Regions from separate parts of the Homo sapiens genome. Here region 2 is linked to region 1. Evidence: fine-mapped QTL for protein levels in blood plasma. A gene starts in region 1. The other region holds a variant in brackets. All regions are shown on one strand. Distances are between the middles of the regions.

Region 1 (8,362 bases):
AAGAGGGAGATTCCAAACATAGGATACTTCAGGAAGGAGTCAAGGAGAAACTGCCACAAGGTAGCCCTGAGGCTAGCAGGTGGTTTGGGAGCAGCAAATACTATCCCAATGACAGAGGAGACAGCTGCGAAAGTTGCAAGGACATAGAAAGTAAACGACGTGATTTACAGTTTTCGCCTTTACAGCTCCTGCAGGAAAAGTGAACGCTCTGTTAAATACGCTCCCTGCCTTGTGCCTCAGGCATACTCTGTTCTTCCTTCAAGCTCCAGAGTGAATGTTACCCCCTCTAGGAAGCCTGTCTTGACTTCCCCAGTAGAACTAGTTTCTCCCCTTGGTGCGTTCCTAGCATCCACTCCTTGAGGGCAAGAACCATGCCTTCTTCTCTGAAGCCACATAGGTTGGATGCAAACCCTGGCTGTAAGACCTCAGGCAGGCAATGTAACCTTTCTGTTCCTCAGCCTCCTTATCTGTACAATGGGAATAATAGTGGCACCTACAGGCCTCGGTTGGTCATGGGCTTACATGAGAGAAGGAACACAGAGTGTTTAGCACAGGGCTGGGCACACACTGAGAAATATCAGTTTCATATATAGTGCCGGGCTTTGGCAGTGGTTGGAGGAGATGTTCATTCAGTGTTTGTGGAAGGAAGAAAAGATAAAGGGAGGAAAGGGAAGAGAGAGAGAAACACAGCAACTAGCTGTAGAGACCATCATGTACCAGGCAGCTCCCACCTGGTATTTTGGAGCCATGGCTGCCGTCCAGTTTTGCTAAGTACACATCCTGTCCCCTTAGGCCAAGACTTGGTACCTAGATTTCTAATTCCCCAGATGCCTAATCACGTGTGCTGTGTCTCTCTCAGCTCTGCAGCCAACAATGTCTCACCTGTCTGATCTCTCCCTGTTCTCAAATCAATAATCCTAAGTCACTGCCCTGGATCACACCTGTGTCAGGAGGTGGGCAGGCCAGGGAGCCCCCTGCCTCTCCCTCCTCACTCAGGGAAAATCAGCCTTGTTTCTCCCAACCTGGTTCACCTGGCGATGCATCCATTCAAGTGTAACCAGAAAAAGGCCACTGGCAGAGTCACATAAGAATCTGCACCGTGGGAGACAAAGTGAGGACCACAGGGTACAGTCACAGCACTGACAGCTGTCCTTGGACATTGTCTCTGGACGTCCTGTGCACCAGGGCTGTGCTAAGCACCTTTGCATACTTCCCCTGTGATAAGTCCATATTGCAACCTCAGGAGATGGAGAATCCTGCTACCTTCCTTTTACATGGGAGGAGCCTGAGGCTCCCAAGAGCTAGACCTGGGCTGTCTGATAAGGTACCCACATGCAACTCTTGAGCGTCTTAACTGTGGCTACTCCAAATTGGGGTATGCCATAGTGTGAAACAAAGAATGTAAACTGTGCCTTTCATAATTTTTATGTTAATCACATATTGAAATTATAATATTTTGGATTGACAGGTTAAGCAAAATATTGTTAAAATTAATATCATCTGTTTCTTTTTACTTTTCGAATGCAGATACCAGAAATTTTAAAATTAAATATGTAACTTGCATTGTATTTCTATTAGACACACTGGATTCAACAAAACCTAGATTGATCTATCTCCACAGCCTTGTTCTTCACTCCTGAGCAGAAATTTAACTTCCATGCTGATACTAAAGTTGTTCCCATATGTGATGGGAACCAAACACAAGTGTACCTGGGTTGGGCTTCTAGGGAAAGAGGAACTCTATTCTCTTTCTACAGGCAGGTGCAACTGTGCATGTATACATATGCTGGGAGTGCCATTGTTTTATGAATAAGGAAACAAAATGCTGTGTGGCACACCCAGTGTCACAGGCCCTCTTACCGTGCAGTGGAAGAGGTGGAATTTAAACCCAAGACTGCCTGACACCAAAGGCTGGACTCTTCCCCTGCTTCCTCTCCCAGGGCTCCCATACTCCACAGCCTAGGAGAAGGCCAGCTCAGGTTGTTTGAGACTGGGTTGAAACCCAGGTGCATAAGTGGTGGTGCACGATTTCCATGTTATTGGATCTTTTTATCTGTTTGAGTCCTGCCTTTTATTTTAGTTGCACTCATGGCCTTCACCTATATAAGTCTAATATATTCCTCAGGTCCCAGACCATTCTCCTCCTCTTTGTTCTGCATCCTCAGGCCCCAGATCCTTCTCAACCTCTTTCTGTACGTTGCTCAAGCTCAATGAATGTTTGTCTCCTCACTGGCTGAAGCTAAACCTTTGTTGTGCCCCAGAATCTGAATGTCTGGTTTCTGTACCCATTTTGCTAGTATCGTTCCTATTTGAAAACAATGCCTACAGCCCACATCCACAGAGCTGGGATCTTTAGATTTGGGTTTTTCAATCAATCCTCAAAAACTATTTCTCTCCAGAAATTAATTAGGGCTGTGCCTCAGTTAGTTTTATGTAGTTATAACAGAATATCAGAGACCAGGGAATTTATAATGAACAGAAATTACTTTGGCTCATGGTTTGGGGGGCTGGGAAGTCTAAGATCGAGGGGCTATACCTGCTGAGAGCCTTCATGCTACATCATAACATGGTGGAAGGCATCACACAGGTGAAAGGAAGAGAGAAGGGGACCAAACACATCCTTTTATCAGGAACTCACTTTCAAGATAATGGCATATTCCATTCATGAGGGTGGAGCCCTCATCAGGATAGGATAATCCTCTCAGCATTACACAATAGCCACCACTGTGTACCAGCAAGCACACAGAAGGATTCAGCAGTTCCTAAACTTATTTGAATGCAGAATCCTTGGACAGGGACAGGAAGGAAGAGAAGGGCTAGGAGTAGGGAGAGAGTTAGGGGGTGGTTACTCACCTCATGGACTAGGGCTTTATAGAATGCCCTTCATGATAACCTCTTCTAGAGGCTTCTTTCCCATTTTGTCTCTTTTCTCTCATGACAAACTACTGCTGATATGTGTTTTTTGTTGAAATACAGTTTTTAAAAGATAATTGTCTTTTGTATGGTCCCAATAAGTAGAACCTTTCTGAATCACAAATAGAAGCTAAAAAAAAAAAAAAAAAAAGAAGGCAAGAGTCCCAACCAATGTGTTGCCACCCACCTGCCCTTCAGTATCTTTCTTTTAGCAAGAGTATGGGGCTTTAGTCTCTTAATGAGCTTGCTTCCATACATATGCATAAAAGGAAGAATAGGCTTGAAATACAATGTGAGAACTTTTTATATCTCTTTGACTTTTTCCCCTTAAGTAAAGTCATTGTTTAAAAATAACTTAAATGATGATAAGTAGAACATTTTCCACCCAGATGGCCAAAGTGCTTAAGGAATCTCAACTGTGCTTCTGGCAGATGACTGTGGGGTTCAACTACCTCCCTGATCTAACAAGGGCTTTGCACACAGAGTGTCAGCCAGGAAGTCTGAATTCACCAAGCACCACTGGGACATAAGATAACTATTAGAGTGGCCAAGGAGACCTCCACAGCAAAGGTGTTAGGGGAGAGGGGGAGAATGGGACAGTCCTCCATATTCCTATTCAGGAGGGGACCTGCAAATCAGAATCTAATCATAAGAGCCTTGAACAAATGTTATGATTTCTCAGGAAACAGTTGGGAAACTTAAATTCATTTGTATGTACAGGTGGATATGAGGTTGCTCAAGGGTCTAAGGTTAGAATCATTGGGAAATGCTATCCAAAGTACTGACTTAGGAAAATCCAAGTTCAGAATTCAAGGTGAACTTGGTTAGCCCTTCCAGTTGTAACAAAACCGCTCAAGTCTGCCTTAAAGAGCCTTACAAGCCAGCCAGTCCCTGCAGCTCCACAAACTGACCCATCCTGGGCCTTGTTCTCCACAGAATGGGTCTGCTCCTTCCCCTGGCACTCTGCATCCTAGTCCTGTGCTGCGGAGCAATGTCTCCACCCCAGCTGGCCCTCAACCCCTCGGCTCTGCTCTCCCGGGGCTGCAATGACTCAGATGTGCTGGCAGTTGCAGGCTTTGCCCTGCGGGATATTAACAAAGACAGAAAGGATGGCTATGTGCTGAGACTCAACCGAGTGAACGACGCCCAGGAATACAGACGGGCAAGTAGGGACAGTTCCCACTCTGGGGCAGGGATGTGGGCAAGCTGGAGAGACTGGCCAGGGTGAGGGAACCCAGAGACACCCTGGCAGGTGTTTTCTGTATTGGAAGCCCTGCCGAGAACTCTCTGTTCTCCTCTGCCAGGGTCAGCAACAACGCACTTATTGTTAGTAAAAACAAGTGTTAACAGTGATCCTACTCTGACACTTGTGTCAGATTTAATGGTTTACGGGGAATCTTCACAAATATTCTTTGGCTTTGCCATAAAGCAGGGGTTTTTTTGTGTGGTCTTTCTAGGTTTCTACTTCCTGTGAAATGTATTGCATTTCTCTACCCCTTCCCACAGGGTGGCCTGGGATCTCTGTTCTATCTTACACTGGATGTGCTAGAGACTGACTGCCATGTGCTCAGAAAGAAGGCATGGCAAGACTGTGGAATGAGGATATTTTTTGAATCAGTGAGTGCTTGTTTTTATAAACCATTAAGGGCCCTAGGGAAAGCAAGTAGGTACACTCTTTCTACAGGGTCAAGGGTGCTCAATATCTGTCATCTTTTAAATGGCCCACTTTATAATCTCCTGGCAGGTGCCCATAAGCTTATTCTAATGCTCTAGACAGAACAAAGTTTAATTCATGAGAGGGGTTTCTGAGAAGTCCCATTGGGGTCATGCAGAACAGAATGGAAAAGTTGCCCCAAGTTGTGTTTTTACCTCCAAGACCTTCCGTTAGGCTCTGAACCAGTGTTTCAATTGTGAGAAAAAGACCTGAGGTGTGAATATTCTGGACGTGGGGTTAATGTAGACTGCAGAAGTGATGGAGGTAGAGCTTTGTCTATTTGTTTTATTTTGCTTTGTTTCAATAAACTCCGATGCCAGGTTTGAGGGGAGGAAAATGGATGACTTGCAGTATGAAAGCTCTCAAGGGCGCCGTGTAAGGATTTCCTGAAACCACAGAGCATAATAAAGGGCCTCAGAATTAATCTTCTAAAGATGATCATAGAAGAGACTTGAAAATAGATAATCCATTTCATTTCATTCTTAATTATCCTGGGATGATTTTCAGTAATTGATATAAAACTTTACAGTGTGAGTACAGAATAGTGATGTAAGTGTTTAGAAGAAAACTATTTGATCAAGATATTTTCCTAATCATGTAGCCAATTGGTCAAACTGTACCCAACTTGATTTTGAAAAGTGAATATCCTGTTGTGAATTATATTTGTTATGGTGACACTAGCTACTAAAACACAGACACAAAAACTGTATACTCACTCTAACATGATAGAAGTTCATTTCTCACGCATGTAAAGTTGAAAGTAGAAGTTCCTGATTAGATGGGTGCTTTGCTCCAGGGGTGATTTGAGACCCAAGTTTATTCCACACTCTGGCTCTAGACTCTGCAGCCTCAGCTCACGACTTCCATGGTTACCTGCTCATCTGCATCAAGCTGTGCACAGAGAAAGAGCATAGAGGACAGTGAGAACGTGGGAGACCCTTATGAGCCAGATCTGGAAATGGTTACACCTCACTTCTGCTCACCTTCCTGTGGTTAGAACTCAATTATACACAGTCACACGTGTTGGGGAGGCTTGGAAACATATTCTAGCTGTGTCCTAGGGAAAGGTTAAACAGTTTGATCATCAACTGCAGTTCCTCCCAGCCAAAACCACAGAATTTGATCTTAAGTTTCTAACTACTTTAAAAGAAAATGTCTGACTTTAATTTTGGAGGTATTTTAAAAGCTCATAGTTGCATTCGCTATGTCATAAAATGCATTTGTTGGTTTCAGGTTTATGGTCAATGCAAAGCAATATTTTATATGAACAACCCAAGTAGAGTTCTCTATTTAGCTGCTTATAACTGTACTCTTCGCCCAGGTAAGAAATCACTACGATTTTGTTAGTTTTAATAAAGGATGGAAAAGAGTACTTAACCAGGTCTTTGCCAAGAATGTATAGGGTATCTCTCATTCTTATTTTCTGTTTATTCTTAATGCCAGTTTCTTAATATTTCCAGTACTTACCTCCTTACTGAAATTCATACTATACTGCTCCTCTTCCCACAATTAATCTTACTAAACTACCTCTACATTTATATGCTGCATCAGATCTTACATTTTCAGTCTGACATAAATGGTATAATTTCTATGACTGTTCCCTCAGGCTTCCTTTCTTGCTATCTCTGCCATTATTTCCCAGACTACACCAACTCTTCACTCCATTCTACTGGATGCCACCCTGTTTTCTGAACATGCACTGCAATTTCCAGTCTCTGTGTCTTGCTTGTGCCTCTCCCTCTGCTGAGCATGCCCTCCCCTGATGACCTCTGACCTTGGGACACACCTATTCTTTAAGGACCAACACCACTTCTTCCACAGTGTTCTCTATTCTAGAAAGGAATGGTGCTTTTGTAATCTGCATTCCTATAAAATTTTGTCTAAACTACTCAGGGAACACATAATGCACTGCCTTGATTTGAGGGTCGCATATCTTACATCATGTAGAATAGTTTCTCCTTTCCTCCTCCTGCTGCACCCTTCCTCAGTTCCCACCAAGTAGAAGGTGTCAATAATGTTGTTAAGTAAATAATTGGACTAGAAATGAGGCTGAAACTTAATGACACTTGAAATATGCACATGCATTCATTTGGGACCTTCCTTTTTTCAAGGGAAGGTCTTTGGAAAGAGAGCATCCACAGTGCAGGAAAACAGAATTTGGTCCCCTGTCGAACAACTACGTGCGTGTCGCTCCCCTGGTGGATCCTGTGCAAGTGTAGATTCTGATTCCACAGGTCTTGGTCAGGACCTGAGATCCTGCATCTCTAATAAGCTCCAGGAGATAAGAATGCTGCTGGTTGCTTTGAATAACAAGGCAAGCGAGCAAACATTTTGTTAGGCACAGTTTAAGGTTCCTGGTTGTGAAGGCAAGATTCACAGAACAGCAAGTAGTAAACAGTCTCAGGACTTAAATGGAAGTCATAAGTATCAGAGCTATGGGAGGTCAGGAAGTGACAGGTGGTGATGATTCAGGAGTGACAAGCTGTAGCTGGAAGTCCCCCATTATCTCCACCAGTCCCCAAGTGCATGCAGATAAACACAAAATTTCTAAAAACAATGTGTTTGCTCTGCAAAAGCAGCTTCAAGATAAATTCTGTACCTTGACTTTCACACTAGGCTTATTGACCTCAGCTCCTCCCAAACAGAAATCTGACTGTACTTAATGTGATCATTCTACTCAGTCACACAGTGACTTGACCCATTTTGTTTTCTGGCTCACTTGCATTTTTCTTCTTAAAAAAATATTTAGTCTTATTTTTTATTGATAAATAATAGTTATACCTATTTATGGCATATATAGTGATATTTCCATATATATACTGTATTGTGATCGGATTAGGTTATTAGTATATCCATCATCTCAAACCTTTATCACTTCCTTGTGTCGGGAACATTCAATACCCTTCTAGCTATTTGAAATTTTATCTTATTGTTAACTGTAGTCATCCTACAGTGGTCCAGAACACTAGAATTTATCCCCCTATCTAGCTGTAATTTTGTATCCTTTGACAGATCTCACTTGCATTTCTAACCAAACGGGGTGCGCTTCTGCCTTCTACTATGCCATTCACTTATCCATTCATTCTACAAGCATTTACTAAGCACTGCCTATGTATCAGATATGATGTTCGGTGTTAGGAACTGAAAGGTAAATAAGATATTGCGGTAATGAAATCCCAATCTCTGAAGACAGTCTACTTTACAGGGTCAATAATGAGAAAAGATAGTGAACTAGTTGGAGGAAAAGGTCCTATTTTAATATACTATATTATGTGTCTTTGAACAAAATTCTCAGAGTAAATGTGTGTGAGGTGAAAACTTTGCTTTGTTCTGGTCTCTTTTTTAATTGTGAAAGTAATACATGGTCATTACAGAAAACACTGCTGACAGCTAACTTCTATTCCAGGGGTATATTCCAGAGGTAACTTCCTCACCCCATCCTTGCCTCTTTACAGTCATATGATTTATTGAAAATTAATAGCATTTAAAAACTTATGTTATTGGCATCAACAGTTTCAAAAAAAAAGATTTACATGACGTGCCCTGACTGCCCAAGCTCCATACCCACTGACTCTTCCAATCACCAAGTGCTGGAGGCTGCCACCGAGTCTCTTGCGAAATACAACAATGAGAACACATCCAAGCAGTATTCTCTCTTCAAAGTCACCAGGGCTTCTAGCCAGGTAAGGCTAAAACTGCCCAAGCCAGTTACACAGTGTGTCTCATAACTGTTGC
Region 2 (8,362 bases), 21 kb after region 1:
ACATATATTCAAATAGCAAAAAGTGTATGAAGCAATTATGCATTATAAATAGTTGGTTTTCCTTATGGTTGTAGAATTAGAGGTGAATTTTCTTTATGCTTTTCGTATTTTCCATATTTTTTGCAAAAAGCATGTGTTCTATTATGAGTCAAAAAGGTTTAAAGAATAAAAATTCTGTTAGCTAACTCTTTTTTCTGATACAATGGTCAGGACACACAGAAATAACCTAAATGCAGAATGAAAATGTGAAGACGGCAGGGCGCAGTGGCTCATTCCTATAATCACACCACTATGGGAGGCTGAGGCGGGTGGATCACCTGAGGTCAGGGGTTCGAGATCAGCCTGACCAATATGGTGAAACCTTGTCTCTACTAAAAGTACAAATTTTAGCCAGGCGTGGTGGTGGGCACCTGTAGTCCCAGTACTCAGGAGGATGAGACAGAAGAATTGCTTGAAACTGGGAGGTGGAGGTTACAGCAGTGAGCTGAGATGGCACCACTATACAACAACCTAGGCAACAGAGCAGGTGAGACTTTGTCTCAAAAAAAAAAAAAGAAAGAAAAGAAAAGGTAAAGATGAAGATTCTACCTGCCCAGTCTGCCCAGATAGTGTCAGGCCTCTGAGCCTAAGCTAAGCCATCATATCCCCTGAGACCTGCACATACACATCCAGATGGCCGGTTCCTGGCTTAACTGATGACATTCCACTACAAAAGAAATGAAAATGGCCTGTTCCTGCCTTAACTGATAGCATTATCTTGTGAAATTCCTTCTCCTGGCTCATCTTGGCTCAAAAGCTCCCCTACTGAGCACCTTGTGACCCCTACTCCTGCCTGCCAGAGAACAACCCCTCTTTTTCCTTTACGTACCTAAATCCTATAAAATGGCCCCACCCCATCTCCCTTCACTGACTCTTTTTGGACTCAGCCCACCTGCACCCAGGTGATTAAAAGATTTATTGCTCAGACAAAGCCTGTTTGGTGGTCTCTTCACACGGACACACATGAAATTTGCTGCCGTGACTCGGATCAGGGGAACTCCCTTGGGAGATCAATCCCTAGTCCTCCTGTTCTTTGCTCCGTGAGAAAGATCCACCTACGATCTCAGGTCCTCAGGCTGACCAGCCCAAGAAACATCTCACCAATTTCAAATCCCGTGAACAGCCTCTTTTTACACTCTTCTCCAACCTCCCTCACTATCCCTCAACCTCTTTCTCTGTTCAATCTTGGTGCCACACTTCAATCTCTCCCTTCTCTTAATTTCAATTCCTTTCATTTTCTGGTAGAGACAAAGGAGACATGTTTTATCCATGGACCCAAAACTCCAATGCCGGTCGTGGACTAAGAAAGGCAGCCTTCCCTTGGTGTTTAATCATTGTGGGGATGCCTCTCTGATTATTCACTCAGGTTTCAGAGGTGTCAGACCACGCAAGGACACCTGCCTTGGTCTTTCACCCTTAGCGGCAAGTCCCGCTTTTCTAGGGGAGGGGCAGGAACCCCGACCTCTTATCTCTGCACCCCGATCCCTTATTTCCATGCCCCAACCTCTTATTTCTGTGCCCCGATCCCTTATTTCCGTGCCCCGACCTCTTATCTCTGCGCCTCAACCCCTTATTTCCGTGCCCTGACCCCTTCTCTGCTTTTCTGGAGGGCAAGAACCCCCCAACCCTTCTCCATGTCTCTACTCTCTTTTCTCTGGGCTTGCCTCCTTCACTATGGGCAAGCTTCCACCTTCCATTCCTCCTTCTTCTTCCTTAGCCTGTGTTCTCAAGAGCTTAAAACCTCTTCAACTCTCACCTGACCTAAAATCTAAGCGTCTTATTTTCTTCTGCAATGCCGCTTGACCCCAATACAAACTCGACAGTACTTCCAAATAGCCAGAAAACAACACTTTCAATTTTTCCATCCTATAAGATCTAAATAATTCTTGTCGTAAAATAGGCAAACGGTCTGAGGTGCCTGATGTCCAGGCATTCTTTTACATATCGGTCCCTCCCTGGTCTCTGTTCCCAATGCAACTCGTCCCAAATCTTCCTTCTTTCCCTCCCGCCTGTCCCCTCAGTCCCAACCCCAAGCGTTGCTGAGTCTTTCCAGTCTTCCTTTTCTACAGACCCATCTGACCTTTCCCCTCCTCCCCAGGCTGCTTGTCACCAGGCCGAGCTAAGTCCCAATTCTTCCTCAGCCTCTGCTCCTCCACCCTATAATCCTTCTACCATCTCCCCTCCTCACAGCCGTTCCGGCATACAGTTTAGTTCTGTGACTAGTTCTTCCCCACCTGCCCAACAGTTTCCTCTTAGAGAGGTGGCTAGAGCTGAAGGCATAGTCAGGGTACATGTACCTTTTTCTCTATCACGCCTCTCTCAGATCAGTCAGTGTTTAGGCTCTTTCTCATCAGACCCCACTAAATGTATACAGGAATTCTGATATCTAACTCTGTCCTACAAGTTAACCTGGAGTGACTGAAATGTCATCCTAACTTCTACCCTCTCCCCAGATGAACGGGAAAGAGTTTTTTCTCTAGCCCAATCTCACGCTGATAACCGCCGGCTTCACGAGCCAGACCTCCAGGAAGGCATTAGAGCAGTTCCCCGAGAAGATCCCCAATGGAACTATCAGACAAATTCCCCAGGTATAGCTAGGTGAGATTACATGATTCCTGCCTACTTGAAAGGCTTAAAAAGGCAGCTTACAAAGCTGTTAATTATGACAAGCTTGAAGAGACTACCCAAGGTAGAGACGAAAACCCAGCCCAGTTCATGGCCGGCTTAGCAGCAACCTTTGGACGCTATACCGCCCTAGACCCAGAAGGGCCAGAAGGCCGCCTTATTCTTAACATGCATTTTATCATCCAATCCACTCCTGACATTAAGAAAAAACTTCAAAAATTAGAATCTAGCCCTCAAACCCCACAACAGGAATTAATCAATCTTGCCTTCAAGGTGTACAATAATAGAGAAGAAGCATCCAGACGGCAACGCGTTTCTGAGTTACAATTACTTGCCTCTGCTGTGAGACGAGACCCAGCCACACCTCCAGCATAGGAGAACTTCAAAATGCCTCAGCCGCACACGCCTAAGCCGCAGCAGTCAAGCATTCCTACAGGACTTCCTGCATCAGGATCTTGCTTCAAGTGCCAGAAATCTAGCCACTAGGCCAAGGAATGCCCACAGCCCAGGATTCCTCCTCAGCCGTATCCCATCTGTGTAGGACTCCACTGAAAATCAGACTCTTCAACTCACCTGGCAGCCACTCCCAGAGCCCCTGGAACTCCGGCCCAAGGCTCTCTGACTGACTCCTTCTCACATTTTCTCAGCTTAGCAGCTGAAGACTGACGCTGCCCGATCGCCTTGGAAGCCCCGTAGGCCATCACGGACGCCAAGCTTGAAGTAACTCTCAGAGTAGAAAGTAAGTCCGTCCCCGTCTTAATCAATACGGAGGCTACCCACTCCACATTACCTTCTTTCCAAAGGCCTGTTTCCTTTGCCTTCATAACTGTTGTAGGTATTGGCAGCCAGGCTTCTAAACCTCTTAAAACTCCCCAACTCTGGTGCCAACTTAGACAGTACTCTTTTAATCACTCCTTTTAGTTA[C/T]CCCCACCTGCCCAGTTCCCTTATTAGGCCGAGACACTTTAACTAAATTATCTGCTTCCCTGACTATTCCTGGGCTACAGCCACACCTCATTGCCGCCTTTTCCCCCAGTTCAAAGCCTCCTTCACATCCTCCCCTTGTATCTCCCCACCGTAACCCATAAGTATAAGACACCTCTACTCCCTCCTTAGCGACCGATCATGCACCCCTTACCATCCCATTAAAACCTAATCACCCTTACCCCAATCAATGCCAATATCCCATCCCGCAGCATGCTTTGAAAAGATTAAAGCCTGTTATCACTCGCCTGTTACAGCAAGGCCTTTTAAAGCCTATAAACTCTTCTTACCATTCCCCCATTTTACCTGTCCTAAAACCAGACAAGGCTTACAGGTTAGTTCAGAATCTGCGCCTTATCAACCAAATTGTTTTGCCTAGCCACCCCATGGTGCTAAACCCATATACTCTCCTATCCTCAATACCTCCCTCTACAATCCATTATTCTGTTCTGGATCTCAAACATGCTTTCTTTACTATTCCTTTGCACCCTTCATCCCAGCCTCTCTTTGTTTTCACTTAGACTAACCCTGACACCCATTAGGCTCAGCAAATCACCTGGGCTGTACTGCCGCAAGGCTTCACAGACAGCCCGCATTAGTTCAATCAAGCCCAAATTTCATCCTCATCTCTTACCTATCTCGGCATAATTCTCATAAAAACACACATGCTTTCCCTGCTGATCGTGACCGATTAATCTCCCAAACCTCAATCCCTTACAAAACAACAACTCCTTTCCTTCCTAGGCATGGTTAGTTCGGTCAGAATTCTTACACAAGAGCCGGGACCGCACCCTGTAGCCTTTCTGTCCAAACAACTTGACCTTACTGTTTTAGCCTAGCCCTCCTGTCTGCATGCAGCAGCTGCCGCTGCTTTAATACTTTTAGAGGCCCTAAAAATCACAAACTATGCTCAACTCACTCTCTACATTTCTCGTAACTTCCAAAACCGATTTTCTTCCTCATACCTGACGCATATGCTTTCTGTTCCCCGGCTCCTTCAGCTGTACTCGTTCTTTGTTAAGTCCCACAATTACCATTGTTCCTGGCCCGGACGTCAATCCGGCCTCCCACATTATTCCTGATACCACACCTGACCCCCATGACTGTATCTCTCTGATCCACCTGACATTCACCCCATTTCCCCATATTTTCTCCTTTCCTGTTCCTCACCCTGATCACGCTTGATTTATTGATGGCAGTTCCACCAGGCCTAATCGCCACACACCAGCAAAGGCAGGCTATGCTATGGTACAAGCCACTAGCCCGCCTCTTAGAACCTCTCATTTCCTTTCCATCGTGGAAATGTATCCTCAAGGAAATAACTTCTCAGTGTTCCATCTGCTATTCTACTACTCCTCAGGGATTATTCAGGCCCCCTCCCTTCCCTACACATCAAGCTCAGAGATTTGCCCCCACCCAGGACTGGCAAATTAGCTTTACTCAACATGCCCCGAGTCAGATAACTAAAATACCTCTTGGTCTAGGTAGACACTTTCACTGGATAGGTAGAGGCCTTTCCCACAGGGTCTAAGAAGGCCAACACAGTCATTTCTTCCCTTCTGTCAGACACAATTACTCGGTTTGGCCTTCCCACCTCTATACAGTCCGATAGCAGACCGGCCTTTATTAGTCAAATCAGCCAAGCAGTTTTTCAGGCTCTTAGTATTCAATGAAACCTTTATATCCCTTACAGTCCTCAGTCTTCAGGAAAAGTAGAATGGACTAATTGTCTTTTAAAACCTCAGCCACCAACTTAAAAAGGGCTAGAAAAACTTTTACCTCTTTCTTTTCTCAGAAGTCAGGCCTGTCCTCAGAATGCTACAAGGTACAGCCCATTTGAGCTCCTGTATAGAGGCTCCTTTTTATTAAGCCCCAGTCTCATTCCAGACACCAGACCAACTTAGACTGTGCCCCAAAAAACTTGTCATCCCTACTATCTTCTCTCTAGTCATACTCCTATTCACTGTTCTCAACTACTCATACATGTCCTGCTCTTGTTTACACTGCCAGTTTACACTGTTTCTCCAAGCCATCACAGCTGATATCTCCTGGTGGTATCCCCAAACTGCCATTCTTGAAGTAAATAAATAATCTTTGCTGGCAGGACTACGCTGAATCTCCTTAGGCACTCTAATTAGATGTCCTAGGTCTTCCCAATTCTTAGACCTTTAATACCTGTTTTTCTCCTTCTCTTATTCCATTTAGTTTCTCAGTTCATACAAAACCATATCCAGGCAATCATCAATAATTCTAAATGACAAATGTTTCCTCTAACAGTCCCACAATATCACCCCTTACCACAAAATCTTCCTTCAGCTTAATCTCTCCCACTCTAGGTTCCCACGCCGCCCCTAATCCCACTCGAAGCAGCCCTGAGAAACATCGCCCATTATCTCTCCATACCATCCCCCAAAATTTTTGCCATCCCAACACTTTACCACTATTTCATTTTATTTTTCTTATTAATATAAGAAGACAGGAATGTCAGGCCTCTGAGCCCAAGCTAAGCCATCATATCCCCTGTGACCTGCACATGCACATCCAGATGGCCGGTTCCTGCCTTAACTGATGACATTCCACTACAAAAGAAATGAAAATGGCCTGTTCCTGCCTTAACTGATGGCATTATCTTGTGAAATTCTTTCTCCTGGCTCATCCTGGCTTAAAAGCTCCCCTACTGAGCACCTTGTGACCCCTACTCCTGCCTGCCAGAGAACAACCCCCCTTTTTCCTTTACCTACCCAAATCCGATAAAACGTCCCCACCCCATCTCCCTTCTCTGACTGTCTTTTTGGACTCAGCCCGCCGGCACCCAGGTGATTAAAAGCTTTATTGCTCACACAAAGCCTGTTTGGTGGTCTCTTCACACGGACGCGCATGAAAGATACCATCTGTGTAAAGTCAGCACTTCCATCTGAGGCCACTCTCTAGTTCCCATAATGCTAATAGGAACCATCCCCAAAGCCAAATATCACTTACTGGATCAGAGTTCTCAGGACAGAATGTCTCTCTTACTACCATTCAGCTTCCTCCCAACCATTACCATCCCAGCACCCTTAATGTGCTCTCTCCCCTGAAGCTGCTCCAGTTGCTAGAATGGCATCATTAGTACTGTATCACTCTTTAAGATTCAGTAAAGCAACAGGAAGAGGATGCATGACTCCCTGAGGTACTCTGTAGTCTCAGCAGAACAGCACTGTAGGAAAATTATATTCCTGTTCTTGATGCCTCTTCCCATCCCCTCAACATTCCCATTCCTTTCCCTACACCAGCATTTGGTTCACCCAGGACACCCCATTTAGGGTGCAGCCAATATAGCCATAATAGAAAAACTTCATTAAGGAGCTCAACTCATAATAACAAAAACTCAAAATAGTTTTTGTTTTAATCAATAGCTTTCCCCTTCCCCACTGGGTTGGAGCCTCTTAACACCTTGACCAGATTCCATACATTCCTGTCATTTTCTGTTGCACTGGACTGGTCCCATTGGGTATTTAAAAGCCAGGGTTACTGACATTAAAAGTTCAATTGCAAACATTATTCAAAACCTGTTGCACTCATTAACCCTGTGACTTGTGGAAATGAGATCTACTTTTCATACACCTCCCTTTTCTTTCTGTCTTCAAATCCTTTCCCTCTCTTCAGTTCACTCTAGAATCCCAGTAATTCTCAACCTTGACTGCACACACTGGATTACCTAGGAGTTTAAAAACTACCAATACCAAAGTCCACTCCCAGAGATTCTGATTAAATTGTCCTGGAGGAGTCCTTGACATCAGGACTTTTTAAAGCTCCTGGGGTGATTCTAACATGAAGCCGAGTCTGAGAGACATGACTGCAGACTCTCACAGACACTCACTGCGGATAGAACAGGGAGGAATGGAGATGCTGCCTAACTGGCTGTTTCTTGGCAGTGAGGACGGAACCTAGGCTGATTCCCTCTGGTCCCTTCTGATGCTGCTGGCTCTGCTGGTCTGAGGGTTGCATATAGGTATACGGGTTTCTTCTGAAGTGTGAAGGTAGGGGGTCAGCTGTATCATAGCCCAGTCCCCCCCTGCTGATCCCTTCTAACAGTGGGATGGGCATCCAACTATTTGACTCTTACTCTCACCACCATCCTCTTCCACGTGAATCAATTCTTTTTGCAGGGAATTGGGGTGGCATGAGGTGTCCCCAACTTCTTTGCAGGCACACTAATAATAAATAGCATCACTTATTCAGCATCTACTCTATGCCAAGAATTATACTGGTTGCTTTCTTTTTTTCTTTCTTTCTTTTTTAGATGGAATCTCACACTGTCGCCCGAGCTGGAGTGCAGTGGCGCGATCTCAGCTCACTGCAATCTCCGCCTCCCGGGTTCAAGTGATTCTCCTGCCTCAGCCTCCCAAGTAGCGGCGATTACAGGCATGTGCCACCATGCCCAGCTAATTTTTTGTATTTTTAGTAGAGACAGGGTTTCACCATGTTGGCCAGGCTGGTCTCAATCTCCTGACCTTGTGATCAGCCTGCCTTGGCCTCCCAAAGTGCTGGGATTACAGGCATGAGCCACCGCACCCAGCCTGATTTCTTATTTAATTATCACACAAGCCTGCCAAGAGGTATCAATCCATATTTCGTAAATGAGGGAACTATCAGAGAAGTTTTGTTGCTTACCCAGCATTACACAGTAAGAAAGTAATAGAGCCAGGTGAGAAATTCAGATTTGACTTCAAAACGA

Direction of the effects. Positions count from the first base shown, and alleles are read on the strand shown. Strength reflects both the effect of a copy and how common the allele is.
In carriers of allele C in region 2, the plasma level of the protein whose gene starts at base 3,789 in region 1 tends to be lower than with T alone (strong association).

The links. PIP is the chance, under the fine-mapping model, that this variant and not a neighbour inherited with it causes the effect. The UK Biobank Pharma Proteomics Project read protein levels with antibody pairs (Olink). The fine-mapping took linkage between variants from a reference panel, not from the people measured, so its PIPs are less certain.
Region 2: its variant is fine-mapped to the plasma level of the FETUB protein (UK Biobank, PIP above 0.99).

Annotation. Positions count from the first base shown.
Region 1 is chr3:186,636,611-186,644,972 of GRCh38, forward strand. It overlaps FETUB (fetuin B), which reads left to right and starts at 3,789. Exons shown (of 7, transcript NM_014375.3): 1 at 3,789-4,075; 2 at 4,420-4,530; 3 at 5,861-5,948; 4 at 8,141-8,310. The coding sequence starts at 3,851. HRG-AS1 (HRG and FETUB antisense RNA 1) reads right to left here. Exons shown (of 3, transcript NR_187317.1): 2 at 5,344-5,518; 3 at 4,899-5,013.
Region 2 is chr3:186,657,165-186,665,526 of GRCh38, forward strand. The region is part of intron 1 of HRG-AS1 (HRG and FETUB antisense RNA 1); the gene reads right to left. Among named protein-coding and RNA genes, the nearest start is that of HRG-AS1, 4.3 kb to the right of the region's middle. RefSeq lists enhancers at 463-982, 5,985-6,665. The variant C/T (reference allele first, on the strand shown) is at 3,589.